2 linked regions of the Homo sapiens genome follow. The protein of the gene in region 1 interacts with the protein of each later gene in a biochemical or structural test. Each region holds a gene or a part of one and is shown on either strand. Other genes may lie near its edges. The genes, in order: PJA2 and PRKAR2A.

The links.
Region 2: the proteins of PJA2 (region 1) and PRKAR2A form a complex in vitro, tested with the Homo sapiens proteins (one study listed by BioGRID).

The regions. Positions count from the first base shown.
Region 1 is NC_000005.10:109,375,034-109,391,629, forward strand, and holds part of PJA2 (E3 ubiquitin-protein ligase Praja-2), read right to left. Parts: intron 8,488-16,596; 5' UTR 8,401-8,487; coding exon 8,370-8,400; intron 6,671-8,369; coding exon 6,470-6,670; intron 4,222-6,469; coding exon 3,171-4,221; intron 1-3,170.
Region 2 is NC_000003.12:48,755,754-48,772,349, reverse strand, and holds part of PRKAR2A (cAMP-dependent protein kinase type II-alpha regulatory subunit), read left to right. Parts: intron 1-7,000; coding exon 7,001-7,102; intron 7,103-7,271; coding exon 7,272-7,346; intron 7,347-15,905; coding exon 15,906-15,971; intron 15,972-16,596. UniProt on the Homo sapiens protein: Regulatory subunit of the cAMP-dependent protein kinases involved in cAMP signaling in cells. Type II regulatory chains mediate membrane association by binding to anchoring proteins, including the MAP2 kinase.

The sequences.
Region 1 (16,596 bases):
AACAGCTCAGAGCAATGCTACTGGCTGCAATGTTTATCCCACAGAGTGTAACATTTCAGATGTGATTAAATGATCATTTAGAATTTTTCAGGGAAGAAGGCAATCATGAATTCATTAAAATACTTTTCTACTTAAAAAGAATATATAATTCATATTTTTAAAAAGTAGCCAAAATTCCTATATCTAAAAATGCTGGCCGGGTGCAGTGGCTCACGCCTGTAATCTTGACACTCTGGGAGGCTGAGGCGGGTGGATCACTTGAGGTCACAGGTTCAAGACCAGCATGACCAACATGGTGAAACCCCATCTCTACTAAAAATACAAAAATTAGCTGGGCATGATGGCATGCCTGTGGTCCCAGTTATTCAGAAGGCTGAGGCAGAAGAATCACTTGAACCTAGGAGGCAGAGGTTGCAGCGAGCCGAGATCACGCCACTGCACTCCAGCCTGGGCAACAGAGAGAAACTCTGTCTCGAAATAAATAAATAAAAAATAAAAAAATAAAAATGCCACAATGAACTTTAGTTATATTCTTGATGAGTTCTACTTTGGCTATTATAAGCATGACAAAAAAAAACTTTTCAAGTATATCAACTTTTTAAGCTTTACAAAAAAACTCAAAGTTCACAGGCCCAAATTAAGCAGCAGCTCTTATACTTTCCATCCAAAACCTGAGAAGACTAGCATCACCATCTCTCCAATCTACAAATACAAGAACTAGGGAGGATGACAATGAAACATCAGGGAGATGAACAAGGGCAAAATGAAACTAAATAGGAGTGTACAGCTATTAAATTCCAACCTTTAGCTGGCACCATATTAAAAAGGCACCCTGGCAACTATAATCCTTTGCAGGGAATTAGGGTAGAGGAACAGGACACAGCAGCATAGAAACAGAGTTTCTGTTCAGAAATAGAATAATCTGTACAGAAAACTGTACAGACACTTTGAGATCGTAAAACATATCTTAAGGCTATGGATAAAAATATAAGTACAGTCCTAGGCAGAACCATTATCCTTTAGAATTTATTCTATGATTCTTTAAAACAAAACGAAACAAGAAACTTTTAAGCATTTCAATGTGTCTTAAACAATGATCCTAAAGTAGTTCCATCATTTTGGCATACCCTAACCACAGGCTCTGTAGTCAATACATTACTAGCAATTTAAAAGGACAGTTTCTATTAACTGTAAATGTTTTTTCCCATCTATATATTGTTTGTAAAAAAAAAAAAAAAAAACTATCATTGTTCAGAATATTGACATCACTTAAGAAAAAAATTAAAAATAAGAATAAGAATTACAAATAACTAAGAAAATACCTTATAACTATGAAAAGTCCAGGGTCCTTCAAGGCAAAGAATACACTTCCACCACTGACCACCCCCAAAACAAAGAAAATCAATTTAAAATCAAGGAGCCAGGAAGACTACCTTTCTCTAGGGGTTGGCAAACAATGTAACAATTTCATCAACTTCATCATAAGACATTATAACTGACTATAAAAAGCAAGCAGAAGAGAAGTATTTATTTTGCCCAAAATGACAAAGGTATAGCCAAATTAAATGATTCTCCTTAAAGAAGAAAAAGTGTAACTGGGGGAAAAAAAATACAAGCACCTTACACTTTCAAAAAAATAAATTATCAAAGACTGTAAGTTTTGTCTTTTTTTAAAAATAGTAACCTAGAGGTATAATATTAGAGACTTGCAATCTATTTCAAAATCTTAGGGCTAAATGTGTTTTGGAATTTTGATATATATTTCCCAGATTTAGAACTACTACTTAACAAACCCCAACATGGTCCAGGCCACACACAGTAATCAAACATAACTATATTTCTGCAGTAAAATATACAAATATTTGAAAAAATACCCTCATTTCAATTCAGATCCAGATCTGCTTATCCAGGAAGTTAACATCAGGTCAGGCTTTGTGGCCAATTTCTGTTTTTAGAAGTGTGGATACTGAATAAAACACTGTGGGCTTGAACTGAAAAAAACTTTACCTTTAGCTTAAAAACAGTATATCATACAAAAATTACTTACTAACCCTTAAAGTTTACAGACTTTGACAGAGCAGCAGAAATTATATTTTAAATATTTTCTATAATAAATTACACAATCTGTATTATAGTAGCTTAATTCATATGTCCAAAGAAAATCAAATGAATTGTTTTATGACATGAATTAAAATGCATTCATATTCAAAATGGTAAATTTCTTCCTTTATAGTACTTTCTAACTAAAAAAAAACCACACAATTATTTCCACTAGCTAATAAAATCTTGCAATTGCACTGTAATTGAGCACTGTCAGGGATGCAACTAGCTTACAAGGACTCATGAAAATCTGGACACTGGGGTAATGGAAATTCAGCAACTGAACAAAGAAATTCTCCATTTTTTTCTTTTTCTGTTGTCTTATGGTTTGGAAAAAAAAGATACGGGTTTGTAAGAGCAATCAGAATGCTTATTATAAGTTTTATGTTCTGTTGAAAATAGCAAAGAATAGTGGTGAACAGTCTCTGGAATACCCAGTTAGGTACTCAAAGTCCAGCTCTACCATTAAGTTGCTCTGTGACCTTAGGAAGTTATATAATGCTCTGTGCCTCAGTTTCCTTATTTACAAATGAGGGAAATAATGGAATCTACCACACAGAGTTGTTAATGAGAATTGAATGCTAAGAAAAAATAAGTAAAAAATAAACTTAGTGATAGGAAGAGCCACAGGAAGAACAGATAAAGAGGGAAACAAGTGATATTAGTCACTACTGGCAATGTTAATGAAGTATTACCAATCAATAATTTGTGATATTAATCACTTTTTAAACCCAGACTGGCTTAATGTAGGTTTTTAAAAAATACAACAAATGTTTATTTTACATTTTATTAATTGAAATACCATGAACTAGCATCTCTATCCCTTTATAATAATAATCATTATCTGAACTTACTTCTGTAAACTACTAAAAACCTCAAAAACATTTTTTTGTGAAAAATTCTAATGAGTAGTTTGCATGTATGGTTAGCATTCAGTAAATAAAAATATTTGGTAAGTCAAAATGTCTAATTCCCTGATCATATCAAATAGCCCAGCCATCAAACATGGTTCTAGAAAGAAACCACTTCATTTACTACACAATCGGAAAAAGTACTGGATGTGACCTTACCTATCTTCATCTTTGTCATAGAGTTGGTAATAATCTCCACAGCCATTCCAAAAGGTGTTATCCACCTCTTGCCTTCCTGCTGTGGCTCCACTTTCTGATGTCATTTGGTTATTTTCTGTTTCCCTTTGTGTAATAACTCTTGAGTATGGTGGATCCAAGAACATACAGTCATGCTCTCCATCATATTCTTCACATTTTATTAAGAGGTCATCTGAGCCACTTTCCTCAACTTCCAAAGCCTCTCTCCATCTTTGAACACTTCTTTGTTTCGCCTCATGCCTATTAAAACCTGTTTCTTGGTCCACCTGGCTTGAACTTATCAGTTTTCTAACTTTTGGCCTCACTACCTGTTCAGGAGAACTTCCATGGTTCTTTTCCCTATCATTGGTATTTTGTTCACTACAAATATGCCCTGGACCACAGGCTGCATCTTCAGGTGAATGTTCTGTCTGTCTTTCCTGGCTAGTATTATTTTGTTGTTTCGTACTAACCATTTCATCTTGAGAAGACCTCTGAATTTCCTGGCTATTCTGATGGACAAACTCAGTATCACCAGCAGAACTTTTCACTAATGGTACAGAATCTAACTCTTCAAACTCATCTCTTACTTCACAGTTAAATGAGGGAACTGGTGGTGAAAGACCAGTGTATGCCTCTGCCTCTCTGTTTTCCAACTCAAATACTGTATTGCCTAATGATTCCTGGTATCTACTACCTTCCACGACTTCTGCAGAAAGTTGAAGATGGTCATTATCTTCTCCATGTTTGCCATCTGGATCATAAGAGTCTGTATGAACCAATGCAATTCCATTTTGGACACTTGAAGCACTACAAGCTCCTGGAATATACTCTCCCTCAGAGTGATTATGAAGATTTGTACTGCTTCCTAAGGTATCCCTGCCTTCCTCACTGTGATGTACTGCAACAAAGGATTGACTGCTCTCAGTGGTTTGATTCAATGCTGAACCACAAGTGGGAATTTCTGTTTCACTTTTTTCAAATATAGGTTCACTGGGTAAAGAAGAATCAACTTGATCCAAAGGACTGGAACCTTCATAAAAAACAAAAGAAAACATATTTTAAAGGATTAACTTAGATAAAATTTTATGTAATAACTATCACTTAAGTGGAAATCATACCAATTATTACTACTTGAATACATGAGTAAATTTATTTACCAAGCACTTCTATGCTCCTTAACTGAGAATGCAGACTGATTACTCTATGAGTTCATTTATGTCAATGTACAGCCTTTCACTATCATCTCCCTCACATGGCTTTGGCAGTTTTCTATCTAAATCCTAATATCTAATGCCTTCTGCAAGACATATAAAGGAGAAGCTCTTGAGAGGTTATACAATGGGAAGCCTCTCGTAAGTGGAGTCTAGGGTAACCAATCTGCTTCCCAGTGATTTCCAAACTTACCTTCTTTATTATATGCAGGTAAAAACAACAACAAAACAAAAAACCTTCAAAAGTACTTATGACAGATATAATAACTATAGTTACAGATTTAAGAGAAATTAGACCCTATTGTGTTTTGTTGGCAATTCACAAAATTATATCTCAGTATCTCGACAGATTATAAATTGAATTGTTGTAATACATTTGTAATAAGTTTACTTTAGATGTGTTATAGTTATGACTGAAAAACAACAAAGAGATCAATATGTTGATTCTTGTCATAATTGTGAGAATTCTGAAACATGAGTAAAATCATATCTATAAATTACTTTAAGCATAACTATCTTGCATCACCACTAATAAAAAAAATGAAGACATTTGAGATTTGCTGGAATAAAAATTCATGAATTGTAAAATAACTGAAGTTCGGCCATGATATATGGTACGAAGGGTTCTTTGATATATGGTACGAAGGGTTCTTTTTTTTTTTTTTTTTTTTTTTTTGAGACGGAGTCTTGCTCTGTGGCCCAGGCTGGAGTGCAGTGGCATGATCTCGGCTCACTGCAAGCTCCGCCTCCCAGGTTCACACCATTCTCCTGCCTCAGCCTCCCAAGTAGCTGGGAACGAAGGGTTCTTCAATGGGATGACCCTAGCTAGTAATTCAGATTCTTACATATGACAGCAAAAATAATCTAGAAATGTCTTGTCAAGTTTGCTTAGAACAAGAGGAAGAAGACAAATCCAGTCCAAAAATGTGCAATTATGGTACATGGATAGCTGCAAAATACTTTTTCAAAACCATTGAATAACTAAGAAATTTTAATTGAATAAGCCTTCCTTGTCCTTTGGATTTTGTAAAATGATGAAAAAATAAACAAGCCAAGTTAAATTTAGGATAAAATTAAAAGAAGAAAAGTTGGCCGGGCACAATGGCCCATGTCTGTAATCCCAGCACTTTGGGAGGCTGAGTTGGACGGACCACTTGAGGTCAGGAGTTCGAGACCAGCCTGGGCAACATGGCAAAACCCCATCTCTACCAAAAAATACAAAAATTAGGCGTGGAGGCGCATGCCTGTAGTCCCAGCTACTTGGGAGGCTGAGGCAGGAGAACCACTTGAACCCAGGAGGTGGAGGCTGCAGGGAGCCCAGATCACGTCACTGCACACCAGCCTGGATGACAAAGTAAGATTCCATCTCAAAAAAAAAAAAAAAAAAAGAACGCCAGGCATGGTGACTCACACCTGTAATCCCAGCACTTTGGGAAGCCAGCCAAGACAGGTGGATCACTTGAGAGGTCAGGAGTTTGAGATCAGCCTGGCCAACGTGGTGAAACCCTGTCTCTACTAAAAATACAAAAATTAGCTGGGTGCAGTGACAAACACCTGTAATCCCAGCTACTAAGGAGGCTGAGGCACAAGAATTGTTTGAACCTGGGAGATGGAGGTTGCAGTCAGCCAAGATGCACTACTGCAGTCCATCCTGGGCAACAGAACGTGACTCCATCTCAAAAAAAAAAAAAGAAGAAGAAGAAAAGTTATTTAAATATTATATGCAGGGAAAAAATATCTCTACTTGATCCACATTTTTAAAAATTTCAAAATATATCTTTTTGATTCAAAGATGATTTCCTTTGGCTGGAGGTTATGACAACGTAATCACTACTATGAGAGTGTGGTTATATTTTAATGATTGGCTGTATTCTATTTTCTTCTACAATGTTTAAATATATACACCATTAATATTAAATTCAATAAGAATTTCAAAATAGAATTTCTTGATAGGAAGTGTGCTGCATTTACACTCACAGACATGCATAATACCCACCCAAAAATTTAATTATAAGATCAATTCCTATATAACTATTAATAACCTTTAAATAATTAAATGTTACACACCTGAGGAATTTTCCTTTGGAACATCATCTAGTTCCAACACTTCATAGTCATCACCAGCCCGACCTAAGCTTCTTTCATGTCTGGTCATACATGGTTTAAAACTGACATAAGCATGTCTTCTTCCATATCTCCTGCCTGTAATTGTCTGATACCCTCCTGCTGGTTTGGGCCAGACAGCCTTACCAGATTCTTGGTCCATTGCTGAAAAAAAAGTTAAAAAATTAAAACAGGAACAGCAATGAGCTTTATTCTTGCAACCTGTTGGGGAAAACTACTTCAGTTTATATTTTATTATTTATCAAATCATATGCTTCTGAACATGAAGTGTACCTTACTAGTACTATAAAACATTATTCTTCACACACTAGAAAATTAAATATGAAGTACTATATAATAAGAGTTAGTGGCCTTTTCCCTTCAAAAAATATGTTTTAAAATTTGGTTTCTTTAAGGTATTTCAGATTTTTATAATGAAACCTATCAAAAAATATTTTTCATATGCCAAATTATTATACTGCCAAAGCTCTTTATGGGAGATCTTCCAAATTAAGTACCTTATATATTATATTAATATAAGTGCTCAATACATATTTGATGAATCAATTACTAGCATTATGATATGATGGTTTCAATTACTTTAAGAATGAAAACATTTATGTCAAAGATAACAAGTAACCTCTTTAAATGGTATCTGTACCATGAAGAATCAACTAGATCACAATAAATATGTTCCAAAGATTAACGTCAGATAAAACTATCCAAAAGAAAACAGCAATGAGCCAGGTCAAACACATACTACCCTGCCTTCAAAACTACCAATAAATGGTATATGTTATGGTAAGAAAAGCCATCAACATTTACATGACTTGACAATTAAGTTTTGTTGACTGAGGGGTATACAGTAGTAAACAGCAGCAACTTTCACTAAGTAGTACATTATTATACACACACATATATATATTAAGTGTAAGTCTGCTTAGTCAATTATACATTACATGTACTACACAGCAACTAAACAAAATATTTTCTCACAGCATATGGTATAGTCAATAAATGCAACAGTTGCTGGGCATGGTGGCTCATGCCTGTAATCCCGGTACTTTGGGAGGATGAGGCAGTCGGATCACTTGAGGCCAGGAGTTCGAGATCAGCCTAGCCAACATGGCGAAACCCCGTCTCTACTAAAAATACAAAAATTAGCCAGACGTGGTGGCACATGCCCATAATTCCAGCTACTCAGGAAGCTGAGGCATGAGAATCACTTGAACCCAGGAGGCGGAGGTTGCAGTGAGCCAAGACTGTGCCACTGCACTCCAGCTTGGGTGACAGTTCGAAACTCCATCTCAAAAAAAAAAAAAAAATGAATAAATGAATGAATGAAACAGTTACATAATTTCTTAGTTGTATTAAAATAAGAAATATAATCACTTCCAAGAAGGAAACAGAAACAAACATGTATTTATAATACACGCACATATCGAGTATAAATAATATCAAGTGTTACACTTATTTAATCCCATCAGTAATCTTGAGGTGGATATTGTATTCTATTTTAAAAATTGAAAAATTAAAGTTAAAATTAAGTGTTGGATAACTTGTCTAATAATCCAAAAGTATGACTCCAGAACCAATGCCCTTAACAATTCTACCAAAAGAATAGTCTCCGAAGTGGAAAGCATAAAGCTTTCCAAGCTAAATGGGTATGGAAAGAAAATACCAGAATTTCTATTTTTACCTATCAAAAATTAGAAACTAAGCTTTACAAATATTCAATATATGGATCAAAACCAGCCTTTTAGTAAGACCACAGGTCAGATGATCATATGTCACTTACTGGTACTCAAGGTACCCAGAGGAAAAAACAAGAAGTACTCAATGTAGAAGAACTGACTTTCCTTACCTGCTGGCTCCTTTTCAGTGTACTGTGACATATATGGCAGCGTCTGTGTGACCAGTTCAGTAGAATTATAGATGTGATTTAGTTTTTATTCACACTATGGACAAGCCGCAGAAGATTCCTACAAAGAAACAATGAATTGAACAATATATTAATAAAAGCACAAAAATAGCAAAACTGATACTTCTGCTCCTCCTAGTGAAGTCTTATAATAAAACTTAGAAAAATACAATGTGATGTAGCCAGCATGGTGGCAAATGCCTGTGATCCGCCTTAGATTACAGCACTTTGGCAGGCCAAGGCGAGCAAATCAGTTTGAGCTCAGGAATTCGAGAACAACCTGGCCAACATGGTGAAAGTCTGTCTCTGCAAGAAATACAAAAATTAGCCAGGCGTGGTGGTGCACACCTCTAGTCCCTCAGGAGGCTGTGGTGGGAGGATTGCTTGAGCCCAGGAGGTGGAGGCTGCAGTGAGCCGAGATCATGCCACTGCACTCCAGGCCTGGGTGACAAAGTGAGATCCCGTCCCAAAAATAAATAAAAACAAGAAAAATACAACACAATTTGACAAGCCAATCAAAAACTCTCAGAAATACCAAAATGGCTATGTGAAATACAGATTTACATCTGCTCTTGATAAACCTTGCCTAAGTATATATCATCCTTAAGACTGTCAATGACAACAACACATACATAATTTGTAAGTAAACAAACAAAAATATCAGAAGTACTGACTCAGGTATGTAACCAAACTATTTGGGAGTCTACTACACTGTGCTATCATTGCTTCTCTGTCAAGCAGTAAAGTTCCTTTAGCCCTGGAATTGCTAAAAGGTAACTGTAAGAATACAAACTTCATTTTTTAAAAATGTGTAATGGCTTATAACAATAATTAATGTGTGTAAATAATGATGTATTTATTCTTTGCAATAGTCAGTTGATCAGATAATTTAATCCCAAATAAGAACCTATTTTCAATCAGGAAAAACTACAATTTATCATGGAACAAATACAAAAAGAACTTCTGTTTTGAAATTAATGCATTTATTTACTATTTGAAAAGTACTATTTGAGAAGTTGCAACCTGTGGTTTTTTTGAAAGTTTGGTTAAGTTTTTATTTAAACACCTTATTTATTTAAACACTTGAGCTACTGCTAATTGCTCATCATTAATGCAATAGCTCTGCAAATGAGTTTAATTTATATGTTACCTGTCTAATCACAGACAGATATATATTAACATACGTAAGAGTACAAACCCACATTCACCCATATAATTTATAAATTCAGTAACAAGTTATGATCCTTTAAAGTATCTGAATCAAAAGAGGCTGTTAGCAACAGCTAAAGAGAAAAGGAATATAAAAATAATAATAATCTTAACATACTGGCAAAAACATAGGTGCTAATTAACAGTGTTTTAACTTTTTTTTTTTTGAGGGCGAGTCTTGCTCTGTCGCCCAGGCTGGAGTGCAGGGGCTTGATCTCGGCTCACTGCAACTTCCACCTCACGGGTTCAAGTGATTCTCCTGCCTCAGCCTCCCAGTAGCTGGGACTGTAGGCGTGTGCCACCATGCCCGGCTAATTTTTGTATTTTTAGTAGAGACAGGGTTTCACCATATTGGTCAGGCTGGTCTCAAACTCCTGACCACGTGATCCACCTGCCTTGGCCACCCAAAGTGCTGGGATTACAGGCATGAGCCACAGTGCCTGGCTGAAATGTGCGTTTTATTCTGAGATGGAAAACCATCAAAGTTCTGACCACAGAAGAGATATTTGACTTCTGTTTTAAGAAGAATGCTCTGGCTACTGTATTGAATAGCATGAAGAGGAATGAGGTCTAAAGCAGGGAGCACTGTTAAAAAGCTATCAAAATAATACTGGTAAGAGATCATAGTGGTTTGGACCAGGGTTAAAATAAAGATGGTAAGAAATGACCAGATTCTGGACATATTGTAAAAATACAATCAACAAAATTTACTAATATAGGATATGAAAGAAGGTCGAGGTTGACTCCAGGTTTTACAGGCTGGGCAATGGGAAAAATGGAGTAAATTTCAATTAATGTAGGAAAAATTGTGGAAGAGCCAGATTTGAAGAAAATATATTCAGTTCAGTTTTGGATGAGTTAAGTTTGAGATATCTATTAGACATTCAAATGGAAATATTAAATAGGAGTCTGGTGTTGACTGAAGAATTATGAGCTGTTAGTATAATTTGGGAGTTGTCAGTGTATAGATTATACCAAAACAGGTATGAACTTGGATGAGATCTCTAGGTGTACATGGAGAAGTGAAGTTAAGCCCTGAGAAAATCAAATATGAAGAGGCCAGGGAAAAAGAAGCAGAGATTGAGTATCCCTTTTCCAAAATGCTTGGAACCAGAAGTGCGGATTTGGGATTTTTTCAAATCTTTGAATATTTGCATATACATAATGAGATATCGTGGGGATGACATCCAAGTCTAAACAGAAAATTCACTTGTTTCCTACACATCTTACACACACAGTCTGAAAGTAATTTTATACAATACTTTTAATAATTGTGTGCATGAAATAAAGCTTCTGTTAAGTACTGATGTGTGGAATGTTAAAATTATGGTGCCATATTGGCAGTAAAAATGTTTCAGATTTTGGGGCCAGGTGCAGTTGCTCACACCTGTAATCCCAGCACTTTGGAAGGCCAAGGCAAGCAATCACCTGAGGTCAGTGAGACTCTGTCTCAAAAAAAAAAAAAAGTTTCAGATTTTGGAACATTTTTCAAATGTTAAATTTTTGAATTAGGGATGCTTAACCTATAGCAGAAAAAACAACAGAGGGCAGTGAGAGAAAAGAAAAATACTGAAGTGTGAACACCAAGTGAAGAAAGTGTTTTAGGCAGAACTGATCGTGCCAAAAGTTAAAGTATGATGAAGGCCTATCACTGACCACTTAGCAACATGGAGGATAATGGCGAATGGCGGCACCTTTGGTAGCATGGTTGGTGCAAATGCCTGATAGGAATGCTACTAAAGAGAGGAAAGGAATTGGAAACAGTACAGAAATCATGGAAATCACCCTGTTTCTTAAACTTTTCTTTAATGTGATTCCACTTTTCTTCTTAAAGATACTCTTCGGAGCCGTCTAACATCCTGATCTAAATTTAGTCTACGTGTTTTCAAGGGCTATTAATCAGCTACTTCTGTGGAAATCTTTTGATTGTACTACCCGCTCAGGTTAAGTACCCTACTTTGAATTCCATGTTTTTATCATTTTTTTTTTCCCTTTACTGGAAGATCCTCAAATAATGGTTTCAACAAGTATATGTTGGAGGCAAACACTGAGTCCTTGGACATCTGAAAATACTATCTCCCTCATACTTTAGTACAGTTCAAGACAAAATCATTTTTTCTAAACTCTGAAAGGCACTGTGTCCTACCTGTCTACCTATTTATCCTCATTTTGTAGAAACACCAAATTTTTCTGTCTGGAATATTTAGGGTCTATCTAAATAGCTGGTATTCTATAATTTCACAAAGACTTGTTTGGGGCAGGCCATGTTTAAATTTTTCCTACACAGCACTGGAAGAGCTATTTTAATTTAGAGACTCTTGTACACGTCTCAAATACATCTTTTTCCTCACTACTTTTTCTTTATTTGGCCCAAATGGGTTAATCATTTGTCTCTAAACTTTTCTTTCATATTTTCACTCTACAGACTGGGAGATTTCACTCATTTTTACTTCTTTCCCTTAGCCTTTCCTTATTCTCTTAGCCTGTCATTACTCTCTGTAACAATCTTTTTAATTTCTCATACTTTCTTATTCTGTGATTATTATTTAATAGTAGTTCTTGTGTTATGAATATAGACTAGAATCTCTCTGTAGATACTAATTATTTCTACTTAATCCGAGACCTCTATATTCCGTCTACCACTTTCTATCTCTAAGTATAAAAAATAAGAAAAAAAGCAAAACAGGGAAGAGATAAGTAGGGAATAAAGACCATAGCTAGGGTCAAGATTAAAATGATTAATCAGTCCAAATTTGTAGCTAAGGTAAATTGGGAACACCTAGTTTTTCTCTAAATAGACATTTCCTTTGCTGATTAGTTGTTTCCTCCAGGTACTATTCACCTAACATGTTTATAACAGACTGCTCTCTACTTGTGACAATTAGTCACTTCAAACAATTCGGGGTTTTTACATACTTCTTACTAATACTAAAACAAATATATAAACGTGTTGCTAAGAATTAAAGGACTCAATCAAGGACGTATTAATTTCTGGATCTCTGAATTATTAACCTAGAAGTAATCACTTTATCATTTCAACCAGGATATTATGCCAACAGATCTGGACAGACAATAGGAATCATCTTTAAAGAATGCAAGGAAGAACATGGACATGTAAGGTACACTTCTCACAGTAAACTAGTGAATTTAAAGACAAAGGCCTGTTTATTTTTTATTTACATACACTTTGTCTAGTACATTGTCTGACAGTATATTTAAACAGTTACTGAACAAACGAATGAATGAATGAGATAATTCTGTGCTCCTTTCTCTGATGGAAATGTGGTCACATAATGGAAAAAGAGGGCTAAGTATTTGGGCACACATGGATTCAAACTTCATTTAGGCAAGTTAATAAACTGCTCTCAGTATTAGAGCCCTCTCTTGTGACTTGTTTCTAATGAAGACAGTGTGATGGATGTGACTGTGTGTGATGTGCAAGAATAGGGTAATAAAAGGATTGTGGCTTCCTTAATTTCTCTGCTCACTCTTTCTGGAAGAAACCAGCTGCCACATCATGATATCACTCAAGTAGACCCACAGAAAGCCCACATGGTGAAATACTGACCGTTCCTGACAAAATCCACAAAAACTAAGGTCTTCCGGCAACAGCCACATGGATGAGCAACCTGGAAAGGGTAATGCCCTAGTGCATTACCCTTCAGATGACTGCAGTCCCAGCCTACATTTGACTGCAACCTCTTGAGAGACTTGAACCAAAATCAGCAACCAGGCTGCTCCTGAATTTCGAACCCACTGGGACTATGTGATGATAAATGTCTGAGTTGCTATGTCCACTGCAGGACAACAAGTTACTCTACTCTCTTATCCTGCAACAGGTAACAAATACAAACAATGTAAATTAAAATGAAGATTTAGGCACAGGGAGACAAAAATCAGCTAAACTTCCAGAAGAAGGGTTTCAACTGATAGCGTGGATCTACACCCTTATGACTCATCTGCTGGGAGCCAGAAATAACTCACTTTTAAAGTATCTTTTCTAGAAAAAAAAGGTTGAGAATCAAATACAATTTGATCCTTACTTGAAGGAAAAGTCTTGGTTACTCTTCCAAGTCCATTAGAATATTTTTTATTCTCTCATATTTATATTTACATATATGCCTCCAAAATGCCCTAAAAACATTTAAAATTCCTCTTAAATCAGTCTTGTATAATTAACTTACCCTGCATTTCCTTTTAGTGAATGAATTCCTTAGACACACGGAATTTTGATAATTTACACCTATTATCACAACTGAGATATAAATTAAGAACTACAAACTTTATGACAAAATGCATTTATGACAAACTATGACAAATGTTATTAGAAAGCTATTTTACATTCCCCAAACAAATCCATGTTGGTCACAATACATTAACCCTTTTATATCTCACTGGATTATTCTTTTACCTATGTTCATGAGAAATATTGGCTTAAAATAGTCTCGTCATGCTTTTGTCAGGTTTTCCTATCAAGATTATACTAAAGTCATAAAATATGCAAATAAATCTTTCTATCTTCTTCTTGTTCTCTAGAAGAGTCTGTGTAAACCCAGGATTATATCTTACTTAAATGTAAGGCAGATTTGTCAGTGAAGCCATCAGGTCTAGGATTTTCTTTGTGGAAAGGTTTTTGATAAATTCAACTACCTTAATAGACACAGAACAACTCAGATTTTCTATTTCTTTATATGTCAGCTGACTAAACTGTGTTTTTCAGGGATTATGACCTTTCATTCAAGTTGTCAAATGTATTATCAAGTTGTACATAATTCCCTTTCATTAACAATTTAATATAGAGAGGATCTGTAGTGAAGTCTCTTTTTTTCATCCCTGTTACTAGTAATTTGTGTTTTCTCTCATTTTTCTTAATCAGGTCATTACAGGTTTTCATTTTTTAAAAGTTTTCTTAACTAACTGACTGTAAAACTTTCCTGTTTCATTGATTTCTACTTTTATACTATTTCCTTCTTTCTACTTCCTTGGGTTTAATTCATTGCTCCCTTGAGATAGGAGCTTAGACTACTGATTGTAAACCTTTGTTCTTTACTAATTTATACATCTAAAGCATAAAGTTACCTCTAAGCATTGCTTCAGCTGTATTCCAAAAGTTCTGATACGTATTATTTTTATTATTTTTCAGATTAAAATGTTTTCTAATTTCCACAGTGACTTTGTTTTTCATCCACAGGCTACTCAGAAGTGTCTTGCTTAATTTCCAAATATTTGCAGTCTATTTTTTTTTTTTTGTTATTGGGTTGTAATATAATTCTATAGTGATCAGAAAACATGCATTGTATGATTTAAATTCTTTGAAGATTAATGATACTACTTTATGACCCAGAATATTTTTGCACATGTCCCATATGCACTTAAAAATAATGTAAAGCCTTCAGTTGTTGAATATAATGTTCTATAAATGTCAATTAGGTTAAGTTGATTAATCATACCATTCAAATTTCTTATTCCTTTACTAAAACTTTTTTAAATCTTATTGTTCTACCAGTTACTTTGAATGTATTTAAAATCTCCAGCTAGGAATACAGATCTACCTTTCTTTTTAGCTATTTTAGCTTCTGTCTTACATATTTGGAAGCTGTGTTACTATGTGAAAACATATTTAGAATTATGTCTTCTTGATAAATTGGCCCACTCATCATGATTTTTTTTTCTCTTATCTCTCATAACACTTCTCTCCTTAAATCTATTTTGTCTGGTATTAATATAGCCACATCAGCTTTCTTTTGGTATTTGCAACAATACTGATTCCATCTTTTCATTTTACCTGTGCCTTTACTTGTAAAGTGCTTTTCTTATAAATAGAATATAGGTAGGTCTTACTCACTTATATATAATGTCTGATAATCTTTCTCTTTTTGTTAGAATATTTAATCCATTCACATTTAACATAATTACCAATGTAGTCTGGTTTAAATCTACCATCTTGCTATTATTTTCAATCATCTCACCTGTCCTTTGTTCCTTTATTCCTCCGTTCTTGAATTCCTTGGTAATTTTTTTTTATTATTCCATTTCATCTGCTAGCTTTTTTGATACATCCTTTAAAATATCATTATCTTAGTGGTTTTCCTAGAAATTACAAAATGTATCCTTGATGTATGCTGGATGATATTTCCTAGAAGCTCTAAATAACTTACCTTTCTCTAATGAGTATTTTAAGTTTTCTTTTGGCAGGCAATTATATTGCAAGTAGATTGTCTTAACATCACAGAAGTCTGGTTTTGGTTTATGTTTGGGCAAGTCCATTTCAGCTTGTCCTTATATCAAAGTGTAACCTACACTCTTACTGTCTACTTCAAACTACAGATGCTCCTGGACTTAAAATGGGGTTACGCCCTGACAAATCCACTGTAAAATGAAAATATTATTAAGTTGAAAATGCATTAAAGACCCTACTAAACCCATTGTAAAGTTGAAAAATCATAAACGAAACCAGTTGAGCACTGTCTGTAGTTCTTTTACCAGGTCCCCAAAAAATGAAAGAAACTCACATAACAGTTTAACTCCTCCATGTCCATGGTTGTTATCTTCATATAGCTCACCCTACATGTAAGCCCCACCAAACATTATCAAGACTGTTTCAAACACCCAATAATCTTCAATATCCCTTTCTGAAAATGTCTACTTATTCCATTTCCATGCCTCCATCTGTCTGATGTTCCTTTAGCCTAAATAACATATTTTAATGTTTGTTATGAGTCTGCTGGTGACAACTTCCCTCTCTGCTTCTGTCTGTCTAAAATTGTCTTTGTTTTTGAAGGATATTCAAATGAGAATAGTATTCTACATTAGACACCTTTTTTTTTTCTTTTTTGGAGCACTATAAAGATGTACCCCTATTGTTTCCTGGCTTCCACAGTTTCCATTAAGAAGTCCATGTCATCTGAGCTGAATACATATACTCAAACACCTACCAAGTGAGTGTGCTTGTCAGTGAATT
Region 2 (16,596 bases), on another chromosome or scaffold:
CTGTAGTCCCAGGAGGCGGAGGTTGCAGTGAGCCAAGATCACGCCACTGCACTCTAGCCTGGGCGACTGAGCAAGACTCCATCTCAAAAAATACAAAATCAAATAATAAGCCTTGGTGCTAACTACTGGTTCAGACCAAGATGGAATAGCCCTATTCCATGCTAGTGTTCTCACTTAAAAACTTAAACACACACACAAACAACTATGGACATAATAGAGCAAACATAGGAAGACTCTGAAAGGTGGAAAGAAGAAGGCAGACTATCTAGGGATATTGGGGCTTGAGGAAAGACATGACAGTGAGTTCCCAGGTTCCCATATATCCCAGATGGGGTGCTGGAAAGCCTGAAATCCAGATCTTCTAACAGGTATATTCAACAAAAGCAAAACTCCATCTCAAAAACAAAACAAAACAAAAGAACGAACAGCTAAACAGAAAATCAGCTAGTGTCAGCTAGGATATAGAAGAACTTAACACCATTAATTAACAAAAGCTATCTGAAATTTATAGAACACTGCACACAGCAACAACAGAATGAACATTTTTTTCAAGCCCATGGAACATTCACCCAAATAGGCCATATCCTGGAATATAAAATAAAACTTAAAAAATGTAAAAGATTTGAAATCAGGCCAACCACAGTGGCTCAAGCCTGTTATCCCAGCACTTTGGGAGGTTGAGGTGGGAGGATTGAGTCCAGGAATTTGAGACCTACCTGGGCAGCATAGTGAGACCACATCTCTATTTAAAATTTTAAGAAATAATGAAAATTTAAAGAAAAAATGAAATCAGAATGTGTTCTCTAACTACAATTGAAAGAAAGAAACTAAAAATCAATAACAGATCTCCAGACACTTAGAAATTAAATAACATTGTTTTTGGTGTGAGCAGGGGCTAACTGCAGCCTTGACCTCCTGAGCTCAAGCAATCCTCCCACCTCAGCCTCCCAAGTAGCTGGGACTACAGGTGTGCACCACCACACCTGTCTTTTTGTTGTTGTTGTTGTTGAGACAGAGTCTCACTATGTTGCTCAGGCTGGTCTTGAACTTCTGGGCTCAAGCAGTCCTCCTGCCTTGGCCTCCCAAAGTGCTGGAATTACAGGCATGAGCCACTGTGCCCAGCCAAATAACACATTCTTTCTTTTTTTTCTTTTTTGAGATGATCTTGGCTCACTGCAACCTCTGCCTCCTGGGTTCAAGCGATTCTCCTACCTCGGCCTCCTGAGTAGCTGGGATTACAGACGTGTGCACATGTGCCACCACGCCCAGCCAATTTTTGTATTTTTAGTAGAAATGGAGTTTCACCATGTTGGCCAGGCTGGTCTCGAACTCCTGACCTCAGGTGATCTGCCCACCTCGGCCTCCCAAAGTGCTGGGATTACAGGCAAGAGCCACCGCACCCGGCCAAATAACCCATTCTTGGATAATCTCTAAGACCAAGTCTCAATGAAAATTGAAAACTGTATATTGAGCTGTAAAACCACCTGCTTTGTGGCTGGGGTATGAGGATTAAATACATGGGCATAAGAGAAGTGACTCCCTTAGTGCCTGGTACAAGGTGGGTGTTCACAGAATGATGGCACAAGCTCCCCATGGCCATGGTGCTACTCACCACCCTTCTTTTCCTGAGACTTCCTTTCCTAAGACTCCTATTCTTTCTATTTCCTTGCCTTTGGCAGTCATTTCCTCTTCTCCTTGCTTTCTTAGGTCAGTGACCTATCAAGATATCCTTTTGGCCTCTACTTTTCTCCTGTTAATTGACTTGCTTTGCAAGCCCAGACTCTTCCAAAGCTTCAATACCACCTCTAGGAAAGTAACTCACAGAAGGTCCTCTCCAGCCTGACTTCTTCTTTGGCCTTGGAAATGCCTTCTGAGGTTGAAGTAGGGAGGATCTGGTGTCGTCACTGAGTTTTTCAAGTTGGATCCTACATTCCTGCTTTTATAATGGGCAGCTGCCATCACGGCCCCTATACGTAGTCTCTTTTGCTTTCTCTTGCTTTATTGAAAGTCAATAGAAGGTTTCCTGGGAAATTCCTGCAGTCACAGGAGAGAGTAGCACTCCTTTTCTCTTTTGAACTTCAGGGGTGTTTGCTTGCCTCTGACCACTTGCTGCCTGTGGGAATTTCCTCTTCACTGCTCGATTGGATGCTCATCAAAGGCTATGTTGATGTCTGGTGCTTTTTTTATATTCTCCACAGCCATGGGAACTGGCCTTGCACCACATGAAAAGAGAGTTTTGGGAAGTGTTAAAGCATGCGTAAAAAGGGGTAGAACCAGCTGGGTGTGGTGACTCATGATGTAATCCCAGTACTTTGGGAGGCCACGGTGGGCAAATCACATGAGCCTAGGAATTCAAGACCAGCATGGGCAACGTGGTGAAACCCTGTCTCTATGAAAAATAAGAAATTAGCTGATGTGGCGGCACATGCCTGTAGTCCCAGCTACTTGGGACGCTGAGTTGGGAGGATCACCTGGGCCTAAGAGGTCAAGGCTGCAGTGAGCTGTGATCATGCCACTACACTCCAGCCTGCTGAGTGACAGAGTGAGACTCTGTCTCAAAAAAAAAAAGTCGCTTGCCGGGCGTAGTGGCTCGTGCCTGTAATCCCAGCACTTCGGAGGCCAAGGTGGGCAGATCACCTGAGGTCAGGAGTTGGAGACCAGCCTGACAAACATGGAGAAACCCTGTCTCTACTAAAAAATACAAAATTAGCTGGGCATGGTGGCGCATGCCTATAATCCTAGCTACTCTGGAAGCCAAGGCAGGAGAATCACTTGAACCTGGGAGACGGAGGTTGCGGTGAGGCAAGATTGCGCCATTGCACTCCAACCTGGTCAACAAGAACGAAACTCCATCTCAAAAAAAAAAAAAGTCGCTGTAAGAGATATTTGTTGTGGTCGGGCACAGTGGCTCACGCCTGTAATACCAGCACTTTGGGAGGCCAAGGCGGGCGGATCATGAGGTCAGGAGATTGAGACCATCCTGGCTAACACGGTGAAACCCCGTCTCTACTAAAAATACAAAAAATTAGCCGGGCGCGGTGGCAGGCGCCTGTAGCCCCAGCTACTCAGGAGGCTGAAGCAGGAGAATGGCGTGAACCAGGGAGGCGGAGCTTGCAGTGAGCCGAGATTGTGCCACTGCACTCCAGCCTGGGTGGCAGAGCGAGACTCTGTCTCAAAAAAGAAAAAAAAAAAGAAAGATATTTGTTGTTTTCTCTTTAGTTAGAAATCTGTTGTTGTTGTTGTTGTTTTTGAGATGGACTCTTGCTCTGTCATCCAGGCTGGAGTCCAGTGGCATTATCTCGGCTCACTGCAACCTCCGCCTCCAGGATTCAAGCAATTCTCCTGCCTCAGCCTCCTGCATAGCTGGGATTATAGGCATGTGCCAACAGTACTGGCTAATTTTTTATATTTTTGGTAGAGATGGGAATTCACCATGTTGGCTAGGCTGGTTTCGAACTCCTGACCTCAAGTGATCCACCCACCTCAGCCTCCCAAAGTGCTGGGATTACAGGCGTGAGCCATGCGCCCAGCCGAAATATTGTTTGCTATTGCAATTGTACTAATCTTTGTTACACTGTAGGTGGATTTGTAAAATATTGGGAGTTAACTTTGCTGCCCTCTGTGTATTTTTTAATATTTATTTATTTATTTATTTTGAGACGGAGTCTCTGTTGCCCAGGCTGGAGTATAGTGGTGTGATCTCGGCTCACTGCATCCTCTGCCTCCAGGGTTCAAGTAATTCTCATGCCTCAGCCTCCCAAGTAGCTGGGACTATAGGTGTACACCACCATGCCCAGCTAATTTTTGTATTTGTAGTAGACACGAGATTTCACCATGTTGGCCAGGCTGGTCTCGAACTCCTGACCTCAAGTGATCCACCCACTTTGGCCTCCCAAAATGCTGGGATTATAGGTGTGAGCCACTGTGCCAGGCCTTTTATTTTATCTATCTATGTATCTATGTATGTGTGTGTGTGTGTCTGTCTGTCTGTCTCTCTGTCTGTCTATATCTATCTATCTATCTATCTATCTATCTATCTATCTATCTATCTATCTTTTGAGACGGTCTCACTCTGTTGGCCAGGCTGGAGTGCAGTGGTGCTCTCACACCTCACTGCAACTTCGCCTCCCAGGGCTCAAGCAATCCTCCCACCTCTGCCTCCCCAGTAACTGGGACCACAAGTGCACGCCACCACGCCTGGCTAATTTTTGTATTTTTTGTACAGATGGGTTTCGCCATGTTGCCCAGGCTGTTCTCAAACTTCTGGGCTCAAACAATCCACCCACCTCCCCACCTCAGCCTCCCAAAGTGCTGGGAATACAGTCGTGAGCCACTGTTCCCAGCCTGTATGGGTTTTTTTTAAATAAATAAATAAAATATTGGGGTTTTCTGTTTTTGTGGGGTTTTTTTGTTTGTTTTTTTTTTTGAGATGGAGTCTCGCTCTGTCTCCCAGGCTAGAGTGCAGTGGTGTGATCTTGGCTCACTGCAACCTCCACCTCCCAGGTTCAAGCGATTCTCCTGTCTCAGCCTCCCTAGTAGCTGGGACTGCAGGCGCGTGCCGCCATGCCCAGCTAATTTTTTGTATTTTTAGTAGAGACGGGGTTTCATTGTGTTAGCCAGGATGGTCTCGATCTCCTGACCTTGTGATCCACCCGCCTCAGCCTCCCAAAGTGCTGGGATTATAGGTGTGAGCCACTGCGTCCAGCCTGTTTTTGTGTTTTAAATAGAGTTGAGGTCTCATTGTGTTGCCCAGGCTGGTCTTGAATTCCTAGCCTCAAGCGATCCTCCTGCCTTGGCCTCCCAAAGTGCAGGGATTACAGGCATGAACCACCACACACAGCCTAAAATATTGTTTTGTTTTTGTTTTTTTCGAGGCAGGGTCTCGCTCTGTTACCCAGGCTGGAGTGCAGTGGCATGATCTCGGCTCACTGCAACCTCTGCCTCCCAGGTTCAAGTGATTCTCCTGTCTCAGCGTCCCAAGAAGCTGGGATTACAGGCGCCCACCACCATGCCTGGCTAATTTTTGTATTTTTAGTAGAGATGTGGTTTCACCATATTGGCCAGGCTGGTCTTGAACTCCTGACCTCAAGCGATCCGTCTGCCTCGGCCTCCCAAAGTTCTGGGATTACAGGCGTGAGCCACTGCGCCCAGCCCATTATTATACTTTCTGACAAAATGTATATATGTATAGTCCTGACAGCCTGAGGTGGAAGAAAGGTAGTTAACTTAGATACAAATAACTGCTTGCCCATTTAGGAATCTAAGACTAAGCAATTAACATTCTCACATGTATCTCCCTGCACATGTGTACACATATCTGAGAAGTGCCTGGTTTGGTTAACTGTCTTCTGATCAGAATCCATTACTTACTAAGCCAGGCACAGTGTTGTGTACCTGTAGTCCCAGCTACTTGGGAGGCTGAGGTGGGGAGATCACTTGACCCCAGGAGTTCAAAGCCAGCCTGGACAACATTGGGGGACCCTATCTCAAAATAAAACAGAAGGAATCCATGACTTGCTAGAGTCAAGGTATCTTTCATATGCCTGCCTTCCATCTTGCGTATTCCTCCCGTGTCTCTCCATTAACTTAAATCCTACCTCTCTTTCAGGTCCTAGACATTTTTGCTGCAAAATAATCTTTGATCACTCCTGCCTACTGTGATCTCCCCTTCTTACCTTGAAATTTATGTGGCACTTGTCTTCTGTAGTTTCATCAAGCACATTTCATATGCTCATATGCTGTCTTGAACTGTAGACTTTTTATTTTTATTTTATTTTTTTTTGAGACACAGTTTCAACTTATGTCACCCAGGCTGGAGTGCAGTGGCGCAATCTCAGCTCACTGCAACCTTAGCCTCCTGAGCTCAAGTGATTCTCCAGCCTCAGCCTCCCAACTAGCTGGGACTAGACAAACGCCACCATGCCCAGCTAATTTTTGTATTTTCTGTAGAGATGGGGTTTCACCATGTTGCACAGCCTGGTCTTGAACTCCTGAGCTCAAGTGATCTGTCTGACTCAGCCTCCCAGAATGCTGGGATTACAGGTGTGAGCCACTGCACCTGTCCTTGAAATGTAGACTTTTTATTCCTATGTATTTTGTTGTTGTTGTTGTTGTTGTTGATATTGTTGTTTTTGGGACATAGTGTCACTCTGCTGCCCAGGCTGGAATGCAGTGGTACAATCACAACTCACTGCAGCTTTGACCTCTCAGGCTCTGGTGAGCCTTTCACCTCAGCCACCCAAGTACAGACAAGTGCCACCATGCCCAGCTAACTTTTTTTGTGTATTTTTTCGTAGAGAGCGTGTTTCACCATGTTGCCTAGGCTGGTCTCATACTCCTGGGCTCAAGCAATTTGCCCACCTTAGCCTCCCAAAATGCTAGGAGTACAGGCAGTGAGCCACTGCATTCAGCCAACCTTCATATTTTGATATTTTATATTATCTCCCCATTAAGATTGTAAACTTTTTTAGGGTAAGAACAATCTAATTGTTCTTTTTTTAGGCAAGAACAATCTAATTGTTTTGGATTTTTTAAGTTTTTTTAAATCCTGGATTCTAAGGATTAAATGATTGTTTTATTCTCTCTTTTGGTGAGGTGTCTCTTTTTTTTTTTTTTTTTTTTTTTTGAAATGAGGGTCTCACTCTGTCACCCAGGCTGGAGTGCAGTGACATGATCTCGGCTCACTAGAGGTGTCTTTTTTGATATTGAACAGTGACAGTGAGCTCATAAATGTTTAGGTGTTTTCTGTTTTGGGTTCTATTTATGACCCATAGGTGGCACCTATTGAGTGCTAGATAGCAAGCAACAGCATGTGGGCATCTGGCTGGCTCAGGCTATAGGTCCTTTACTTCCAGTGATGACTCAAGATTGAAGTATCATTAAACACTTAATTAACACAGTAACTTACATATTCCTCTAATATTTGCTTTGGCCAGTTAATTAAACCATAGATGTTCCTGTATATAGGCATTTACTAGAATTTTCATATTCTTTCTTGTAGGACCGGGTGACTTTTAGAAGAATCATAGTGAAAAATAATGCAAAGAAGAGGAAGATGTTTGAATCATTTATTGAGTCTGTGCCCCTCCTTAAATCACTAGAGGTAAAGTGGCTTGAATAAGAATCTGTTCATGGGGATCAGGAAAAGCTTTTAAAACTATTCTGTTGTTAGGTTTTCAAATCATACTATTCTAATCCTATTTCTGTGCTGCATAGCTATTGTGACTTTCAATTAAGGTCTTTTCCTTTTATTTGTGAATTTGTTGTTTCAGGTGTCAGAACGAATGAAGATTGTGGATGTAATAGGAGAGAAGATCTATAAGGATGGAGAACGCATAATCACTCAGGTGAGTGAGGGCTTTACGCAGCTCCTTTCCTGGAAGTCACCCCTGAAGAACTAGTACATCATTTATCTCAAAAACTTCTTGCCGGACGCAGTGGCTCACGCCTGTAATCCCAACACTTCGGGAGGCTGAGGCAGGTGGATCACTTGAGGCCAGGAGTTCAAGACCAGCCTGGCCAACATGGTAAAACTCCATCTCTACTAAAAATACAAAAATTAGCTGGGTGTGGTGGCCCATGCCTGTAATCCCAGCTACTTGGGAGGCTGAGGCGGGAGAATTGCTGGAACCCAGGAGGCAAAGGTTTCAGTGAGTCGAGATTGCGCCACTGCCTCCAGCCTGGGCAACAGAGCAAGACTCCATTTCAAAAAAAAACCAAAAAACCTTCTATGTTCTCCCACTGTTGGGAGCTCTTATTACCAGGTAATAGATCATACTTCAGAGGACTATTATGTAGTCCTCTGAAGCTTATTGACGTCCGTCTTACTGACACGTGCAGATCTCTTGCTTCCTCTCACCTTTCCTTGGCTTCTAGTGTTTGTTCTTTTGATGTCATTTTCTTTTGACCTTAAGTAAGTTTCATCCATTGCTATTAGAACCTGGGGAAGGTTAAAGAGTTCTGTCCTCTAACTTTCTATATTTGACACAAAGGCATCCTTTTGGCTAATCTAACACAAATCAGAGTTCACAGTCTTCAGTGATTAACCAAATTTGTAAGATGTAAAGATTACTAAACAGTGGGCTAGATCATTGTAATGAGTACTGTCTGATAATTTTCTTTGTCCGCTGTGTTTGTATTTTTAATTAAACATAAATAGTATTGGACTTTTCCAGGTATAAGCTTATCTGCCTATGGTTCTGGCTCAAGAGCACGGAGAAGATACATGGTTGGTCTAGGTTGGGTGATATGCTTATCCTAGAACCCAGTACTGAGACTACGAGGAGGAAAGGCTCAGATTGGTCAGGTGTGGGTCCTGTGGGTGGAGTTGGCCCCACTAGAACACAAGGACTAATCAGACTTACCATAAAAGGGGAGAAAAAAGCTCCCTTGGAAGAGATAAAGGACTAACAAAAATATGATGTCTACTCTGAGTCACATCTCTAAATGTATTTGTTTTCTAGGAGCCGTTACTATTAATAATTCTTTTAATTAGAAATTGGAATATTCTATAAACATTTATTAAGATAGGTAGGACCAGATATGATAAGCACTATAATGAAGGAGAGTATGAACGACAGTGAGAACATAGAAATGGAAGTAATACATATGGTTTCATTGAGGAAATGCCATTTGAGATGGGCTTAAAAAACAAGTGCAATTTCAATGTTTGGGATCAGGGAAAGGTCCTTCAGAGCAAGAAAACAATATTAGCAAAGGCCAGTGGTGTGAGCTGTGTTTCAGAGCAGGTATCCTGGTATGGTAAGAATGTAGTGCTGAGATTCAGAAATGGGAGATGTTAACTGGCCACATTTGCTTCTGAACCTAAGGTGCTTTAAGTAACATTCAAAGGACCTTCAAGTCATCCTGAAGGTTCTAGGCCTGTCTCATACTGGGTTTTCAGGAAGTATGTCAGGAGATGTGAGAAGTCAATAGTGTTTTCTTCATGGTCTGTGCTCTTGAAGATAGAGTGCTATCTATCTTCAAGGTAGATAGGTAGTGGTACAGAATGGACATTAATTAAGATGATATTAAAAGGGGCTTATTGTAGGTCCCTTTTGTCAATGTCTCTCACTGGACCAAGGCTTCTCAAAGTGAGGTCCCAGGACCAGCAGCAATCAGCATCATCTGAGGATGTTAGAATTGTTAGGAATGCAAGTTCTGGAGCCCCCCACCAGACCTGCTGAATCAGAAACTACATTTTATGTTGTTTCATTTGTTTTGATCAGCTTTGTTACAGTGTATTTTACATACAATAAAATTACTAAGTTTAAGTGTACAAATCGGAAGAGTTTTGTAACCATCCCCAAGTGGTATTTCCATCACCCATACAGTTCCTTGTTTTGTATTTGCAGTCAGTACCCTCCCCCACACTCACATTCCTGGAAACCATTGATGTTTTCTGTCACTGTAGAAATTCCTTTCTACAATTTAGTATAAATGAAATCATGTAATGTATAGTCTCTGTGTCTGGCTTCTTTCTCTTAGCATAATATTTTTGAGATTTATTCGTGTTGTATGTATCAGTAGATCGTTCCTTTTTATTGCTAATAATATTTCATTGTACAAATGTAATTTTTTTTTCTTTTTGAGACGGAGTTTTCCTCTTGTTGCCCAGGCTGGAGTGCAATGGCGCAATCTCAGCTCACCATAACCTCCACCTCCCAGGTTCAAGCTATTCTCTTGCCTCAGCCTCCCATTACTTTTTCTTTTTAATGAGATACAGTCTTGCCCTGTTGCCCAAGCTGGAGTACAGTGGCATAATCTCAGCTCACTGCAACCTCTGCCTCCCAGGTTCAAGCGATTCTTGTGCCTCAGCCTCCCGAGTAGCTGGGACCAGAGGCACGTGTCACTCTGCCCAGCTAATTTTGTGCATGTGTGTGTTTTTTTAGTAGAAATGGGATTTCACCATGTTGGCCAGGCTGGCCTCCTTAGTAAATACTTAAGAGTGCAATTGCTAAATTATATTTTAACTTCATAACAAACTGTTTCTTAAAATGGCTGTACTGTCTTGTATTCCTACCAGCCATGTATGAAAATTCCAGTTTCTCTGCATTCTCACCAATAAATAGTATTTACAGCCTTTTTTAAAAAAATTACAGTCAGGGTCTTGCTATATTGCCCAGCCTGGTCTCGAACTCCTGAGCTCAAGCCATCTGCCCGCCTTGGCCTTCTAAGTGCTGGGATTATAGGTGTGCACCTCCGCACCTGGCCTTCATTTTCTTAATGGTATCTTTTGAAGAGAAAATGGTTTTAATTTTGACAAGTCCAGTTTATCATCTTTTCTTCTTTGTAGTTGTGTACTTTTGCTGCTGTATTTTAGGAAATCTTTGCAAAATCAATAATATGTTCTCCTAAGTTTACTTCTAAGACCAGCACTATTCAATAGAAATAATATGTGAGCCACATATGTAATTTTAAAAATTTTTGGTCAGGCAGGGTGGCTCACGCCTGTAATCCCAGCACTCTGGGAGGCTGAATAGCTTGAGGCAGATAACTTGAGGCCAGGAGTTCGAGACCAGCCTGGCCAACATGGCGAAACCTCGTCTCTACTAAAAAGTAATAAAAAAAATTAGCTGAGTTTGCTGGTGCACAACTGTAATCCCAGCTACTTGGGAGGTTGAAGCACGAGAATCGTTTGAACTTGGGAGGCAGAGGTTGCAGTGAGCCAAGATCATGCCACTTGCATTCTAGCCTGGGGGACAGAGCAAGACTTGGTCTCAAAAAAAATAAATAAATAAAAACTTTCAGTAGATATTTGAAATGGTGAACTTAATTTTAATATATTTCATTTAACTCAGTATATCTAAAATGTTGTTTCAACATCTAAGTGATATAAAACTTTATTAATGAGATATTTTACATTTTTAATACTGTCTTCAAAATCTAATGTATGTTTTCCATCTATAGCACATCTAAGTTTATACTAGCAACATTTCAAGTGCTCAGCCACATTTGACTCGTGGCTAATGTATTGAGCAGTACAGCTCTAGACAGTCAGAATTTTAGCTCTTACCTTAGGTCTGTGATCCATTTTGAGTTATTTTTATTGTTTTTGTTTTGTTTTTTTGAGATGGAGTCTCCCTCTGTCACCCAGGCTAGAGTGCAGTGGTGTGATCTCGGCTCACTGCAAGCTCCGCCTCCTGGGTTCACGCCATTCTCCTGCCTCAGCCTCCCAAGTAGCTGGGACTACAGGCGCCCGCCACCACGTCCGGCTAATTTTTTGTGTTTTTAGTAGAGACAGGTTTCACCGTGTTAGCCAGCATGGTCTCAGTCTCCTGACCTCGTGATCCTCCTTCCTCTGCCTCCCAAAGTGCTGGGATTACAGGTGTGAGCCACTGCACTCAGCCTTGTTTTTGTTTATTAGAAGCAAGGTCTCACTCTGTCTTTCAGGCTTCAGTACAGTGTGCAATCATAGCTCACTGCAGCCTTGAACTTCTAGGCTCAAGCAATACTCTTCCCTTAGCCTTCCAAGTAATGCCACCACACTAAGCTAATTTTTTTTTTTTTTTTTTTGAGACGGAGTTTTGCTCTTGTTGCCCAGGCCAGAGTGCAATGCCACGATCTCAGCTCACCACCACCCCCGCCTCCTGTGTTCAAGCGATTCTCCTGCCTCAGCTTCCTGAGTAGCTGGGATTACAGGCATGCACCACCATGCCCAGCTAATTTTTTTTTTTTTTTTTTTAGTAAAGACAGGGTTTCTCCATGTTGGTCAGGCTGGTCTGTGAACTCCCTACCTCAGGTGATCCGCCCACCTCAGCCTCGGCCTCCCAAAGTGCTGGGATTACAGGTGTGAGCCACTGCGCCCGGCCTACACCCAGCTAATTTTTAAATTTTTTGTAGAGACAGGGCCTCTCTATGTTGCCCATGCTGGTCTTGAACTTCTGACCTCAAGTGATCCTCCCACCTCACCTCCCAAGTAGCTAAGATTACAGGCTTGTGCCACCATACCTGACTACATTTTTGTGTTTTGTTTTGTTTTGTTTTGTTTTTTGAGACAGAGTCTTGCTCTTGTTGTCCAGGCTGGAGTGCAATGGCACAATCTCGGCTGACTACAACCTCCACCTCCCCAGTTCAGGTGATTCTTCTGCCTCAGCCTCCCGAGTAGCTGGAACTACAGGCATGCATCACCATGCCCGGCTAATTTTTTTTTATTTTTAGTAGAGAACAGGGTTTTTGCCTGTTGGCCATGCTGGTCTCAAGCTTCTGACCTCAGGTGATCTGTCCGCCTTGGCCTTCCAAAGTACTGGGATGGCGTGAGCCACCACACCTGGCCTACATTTTTGTTTTTTAATGACTTGTATAATTTTCACAAGTAATTTTCATGATTGATAGAATATTTAGCTTATTCTTAGAGTAATGTAGACAGAAGGTGGCTTTAGTTTTACAAAATCATGTTTTATGTTTTTGCTATTAAAGTACCATTGCATTAAACCAAAAAGATTCCCATATCCTGAAAATTAGGGCTTCAGTCATTCTTATGGTGGAATGTGGATCTTATATTATCTGTTGTGAAAAAGAGACATATAAGAACCTGATGACATGTTCACAAAGACCTAAAATGCAGTACAGTCTGGCTTCTTTACTGTTGAATGTAGAATGGAATGTTCTTTCTGTGAGATGTGTACACAGAGCCTATTAGTGAACTTGAAAAGCAGGATACTTGGCCGGGCGCAGTGGCTCATGCCTGTAATCCCAGCACTTAGGGAGGCCGAGGCAGGCGGATCACCTGAGGTTGGGGGTTCGAGACCAGCCTGACCAACATGGAGAAACCCTGTCTCTACTAAAAATACAAAATTAACTGAATGTGGTGGCACGTGCCTGTAAATCCCAGCTACTCAGGAGGCTGAGGCAGGAGAATCACTTGAACCCAGGAGGTAGAAGTTGTGGTGAGCCAAGATCGCGCCATTGCGCTCCAGCCTGGGCAACAAGAGTGAAACTCCGTCTCAAAAAAAAAAAAAAAAAAAGGGGCAGGATGCTCTTCCAGTGAGCTCTCTTTTCCAACTGGGTAGTCATCTCATTCTACCCTGCAAAATGACAGCAGTCCTACAAAGCCTGAACAGCCAGTATACCCAGAATATCCACCACTGGACAGCATGGAAACAGGAAATGTGTGTCTTGGCCCACACATTTAGCCTGTCCCAGCCTAACCAGGCTGTTTCATGAGATTGGAAATGCAAAAGAGTGCATCCCTTAACTGCCACAAAGATCAACTGTTTTCAGCTGATGGTTAAAATCATCAAAACATGGTTTTATTTTAAATTTTATCCCCTTGCATTGTTTCACATTATCATAATCCATTGTAGTGAAGTATTACCAAATCAGTAAAATTTAATGGACCAAAGTCCTTTCACTGTCCTTCATTTGGTCCAGAGGAAGAGGTGAACCAAGGCTTTTTGTTTCTCATGTATTCTAGATGACATTCTTTCCCATCTCCTCTCAACCCTGAATCTACCAACTACTCACGCTACCTGCTAGGGAAAGATTATTTATCCCCCAGGCTTCTGAGGAAAGTCATCCACAAAATTGGATAGTAATAGTACCTACTTTCTTAGACTTCTTTGGCAAAAAAAATGAAATGATACACATAAAGTACTCACCAGAGAGCCTGCTGGGAGTGAGCACACAGCAACATTAGCAGCTTCTATTCTATATGAGCTCCCCTGTTCATTCTCCTCAGGCCCTAAGTCATTCTTATCCTGTACACATACCCTAGTCTCTGCTGTCTTCTTCATTTTGTTTTCCTTTTCTCTTTTTTTTTTTTTTTTTTTGAGACAGTCTTGCTCTGTCGCCCAGGCTGGAGTGCAGTGGCACAATCTCGGCTTACTGCGACCTCCACCTCCTGGGTTCAAGCGATTCTCGTGCCTTAGCCTCCTGAGTAGCTGGGATTACAGGCACACACCACCACGCCTGGCTAATTTTTTGTAGTTTAGGTAGAGATGGGGTTTCGCCGCCATGTTGCCCAAGCTGGTCTCGAACTCCTGAGCTCAGGCAGTCTGCCTGCCGTGGCCTCCCAAAGTGCTAGGATTATAGGCATGAGCCACTGCACCAGGCCATTTTTTTTTCCTTTTTTCTTTTTTTCTTTTTTTTTTTTGAGATGGAGTCTGACTCTTTTGCCCAGGCTGGAGTACAGTGGTGCAACCTCGGATCACTGCAACCTCCACCTCCCAGGTTTAAGTGATTCTTGTGCCTCAGTCTCCCAAGTAGCTGGGATTACAGTTGTGCACCACCACTCCTGGCTAATTTTTGTGTATGTATGTATGTATGTATGCATGTATGTATTTTATTTATTTTTGAGACAGAGTTTCGTTCTTGTCGCCCAGGCTGGAGTGCAATGGCGTGATCTCGGCTCACTGCAACCTCTGCCTCCCGGGTTCAAGCTATTCTTCTGCCTCAGCCTCCCAAGTAGCTGGGATTACAGGCATGCATCACCACACCTGGCTAATTTTTGTATTTTTAGTAGAGATGGGGCTTCACCATGTTGGTCAGGCTGGTACCAAACTCCTGACCTCAGGTGATCCACTCACCTCAGCCTCCCAAAGTGCTGGGATTACAGGCGTGAGCCACCACACCTGGCCTGTTTTTGTATTTAGTAGAGACAAGGTTTCACCATTTTGCCCAGGCTGGTGTCGAACTCCTGGCCTCAAGCAATCCACCCCCCTCAGCCTCCCAAAGTGCTGGGATTACAGGTGTGAGCCACCGTGCCTGGCCTTTGCTGTCTTCAAAACACACGTACACTCCTTCCTTCAGTTTGTTTCTATTTTAGCTACCAGCCTAATTTCTTGCATAGCCAGAGACTTTCAAAGTGTGATCTAACAATATGGACTAAAATAAGCCAGATACAAAAAATATATGATTCCATTTATATTAAGTTAAGGAATGGCCAAAACCTACAAGGACAGAAATTAGATATAGTTACTTCATGGGTGGGAATGTGGTAGTTTTGACTGAACTCCGGAGGGAGCCTTTTGAAGAACGGATATATTTTCTATTTTGATCTAGGAGGTGGTTATACAGGTTTATACATTTGTAAAAAGTCATCAAGCCTTGAAATGTGACCACTTTAAATGGTGGATGTTATACACCTATCTAAACAAAAAGGGCTCAAGCACTATCCTTCACCACCTATCACTTGCAGATCTTTCCTACCACACAGATCTTCCCTTTTCACCACCCTCTTCTTGGTGAAGTACCTCTCCCTCTTTGTGACTCTGCCTCTGGCTCCTACTAAGTTTCTTTCATGGCTGTTCATCCTTTGTCAGCTCCTATCATGAAGCTGTTTGTGTAATGCTAGAACTTCATGGTGATTTGGCTCTGCTGGTTGTTAAGATACCTACCCAACATAGCAGGGCAGAAACCCACAGGCACCCCTTTGTAAAGCTGTGGCATTTACTCATATGGGGCAGTGATACGTCCTGGGACTAGATTAACTCAGAAACATCAGCCTAGCTGTGTATGGTGCCCACTTGGGGCTCTGTGTGATGGTCAAAGGGCATGAAGTTTGTGAAAGCCTCAGAAGTAGATTCTCAGTGAAGACAAAAGACCCACACAGAGTGAGAGTGCATGAGTAATAATGCGTTATCTGATGTAGATGGTGTTTGTTCCACAAGTTAATAGTGAGGGGTCAGAAACTGAAGTGTGCCTGAAAGCTGCTTCGCGTATATCTGCATGCCTGACTCAGACGTCCTCCCAATATTTGCTCAAATCTCACCTTCTCAAGCTCTTTTTTTTTTCCTTTTCCTAAGAGGCAAGGTCTCATTGCCTGCTCTGAATTTGTTTACTATTGATTCATTTGCAGAGTTAAAAAATAAATACAAATCAGAGCTTAAGCAGTGAAAAAGCAATCTATTTCTTTATTCCCCTTCAATACTACTTATGGCTCTGACCTGACCTCTCTTTTCTTTCAGGGTGAAAAGGCTGATAGCTTTTACATCATAGAGTCTGGCGAAGTGAGCATCTTGATTAGAAGCAGGGTGAGTTTATCAGTTTATATGTGATGGTGTACACACAAAAAGTAACTATTTGTTTTAAATAATGTGAAGTGTGTTGAATACACCAAACCATCATTGTTATGTGAGGTGTGTGACTGGCAAAGACCCATGTTTAAGCCCATTTAGTATAGATTTAGCATATTTAGATTAGATTAGATATAGATTTAGCATATTCTTATTCTTGCTCCCTTTGCCTCTGCTGTGTAATTAATGATTTAGGGAATATTGGCCTACAAATCAATAAGAAAAAGATAAAAACCCTAATAGAAAATGGGGGCTGGGGCCGGGCACAGTGGCTCACGCCTGTAATCCCAGCACTTTGGGAGGGCAAGGCGGGCGGATCACAAGATCAGGAGATTGAAACCATCCTGGCTAACACGGTGAAACCCTGTCTCTACTGAAAATACAAAAAAAATTAGCCAGGCATGGTGGCGGGCGCCTGTAGTCCCAGCTACTCAGGAGGCTGAGGCAGGAGAATGGCATGAACACCGGAGGCAGAGCTTGCAGTCAGCTGAGATCGTACCACTGCACTCCAGCCTGGGCGACAGAGCGAGACTCCGTCAAAAAAAAAAAAAAAAAAGGAAATGGGGGCTGGGCGCAATGTCTC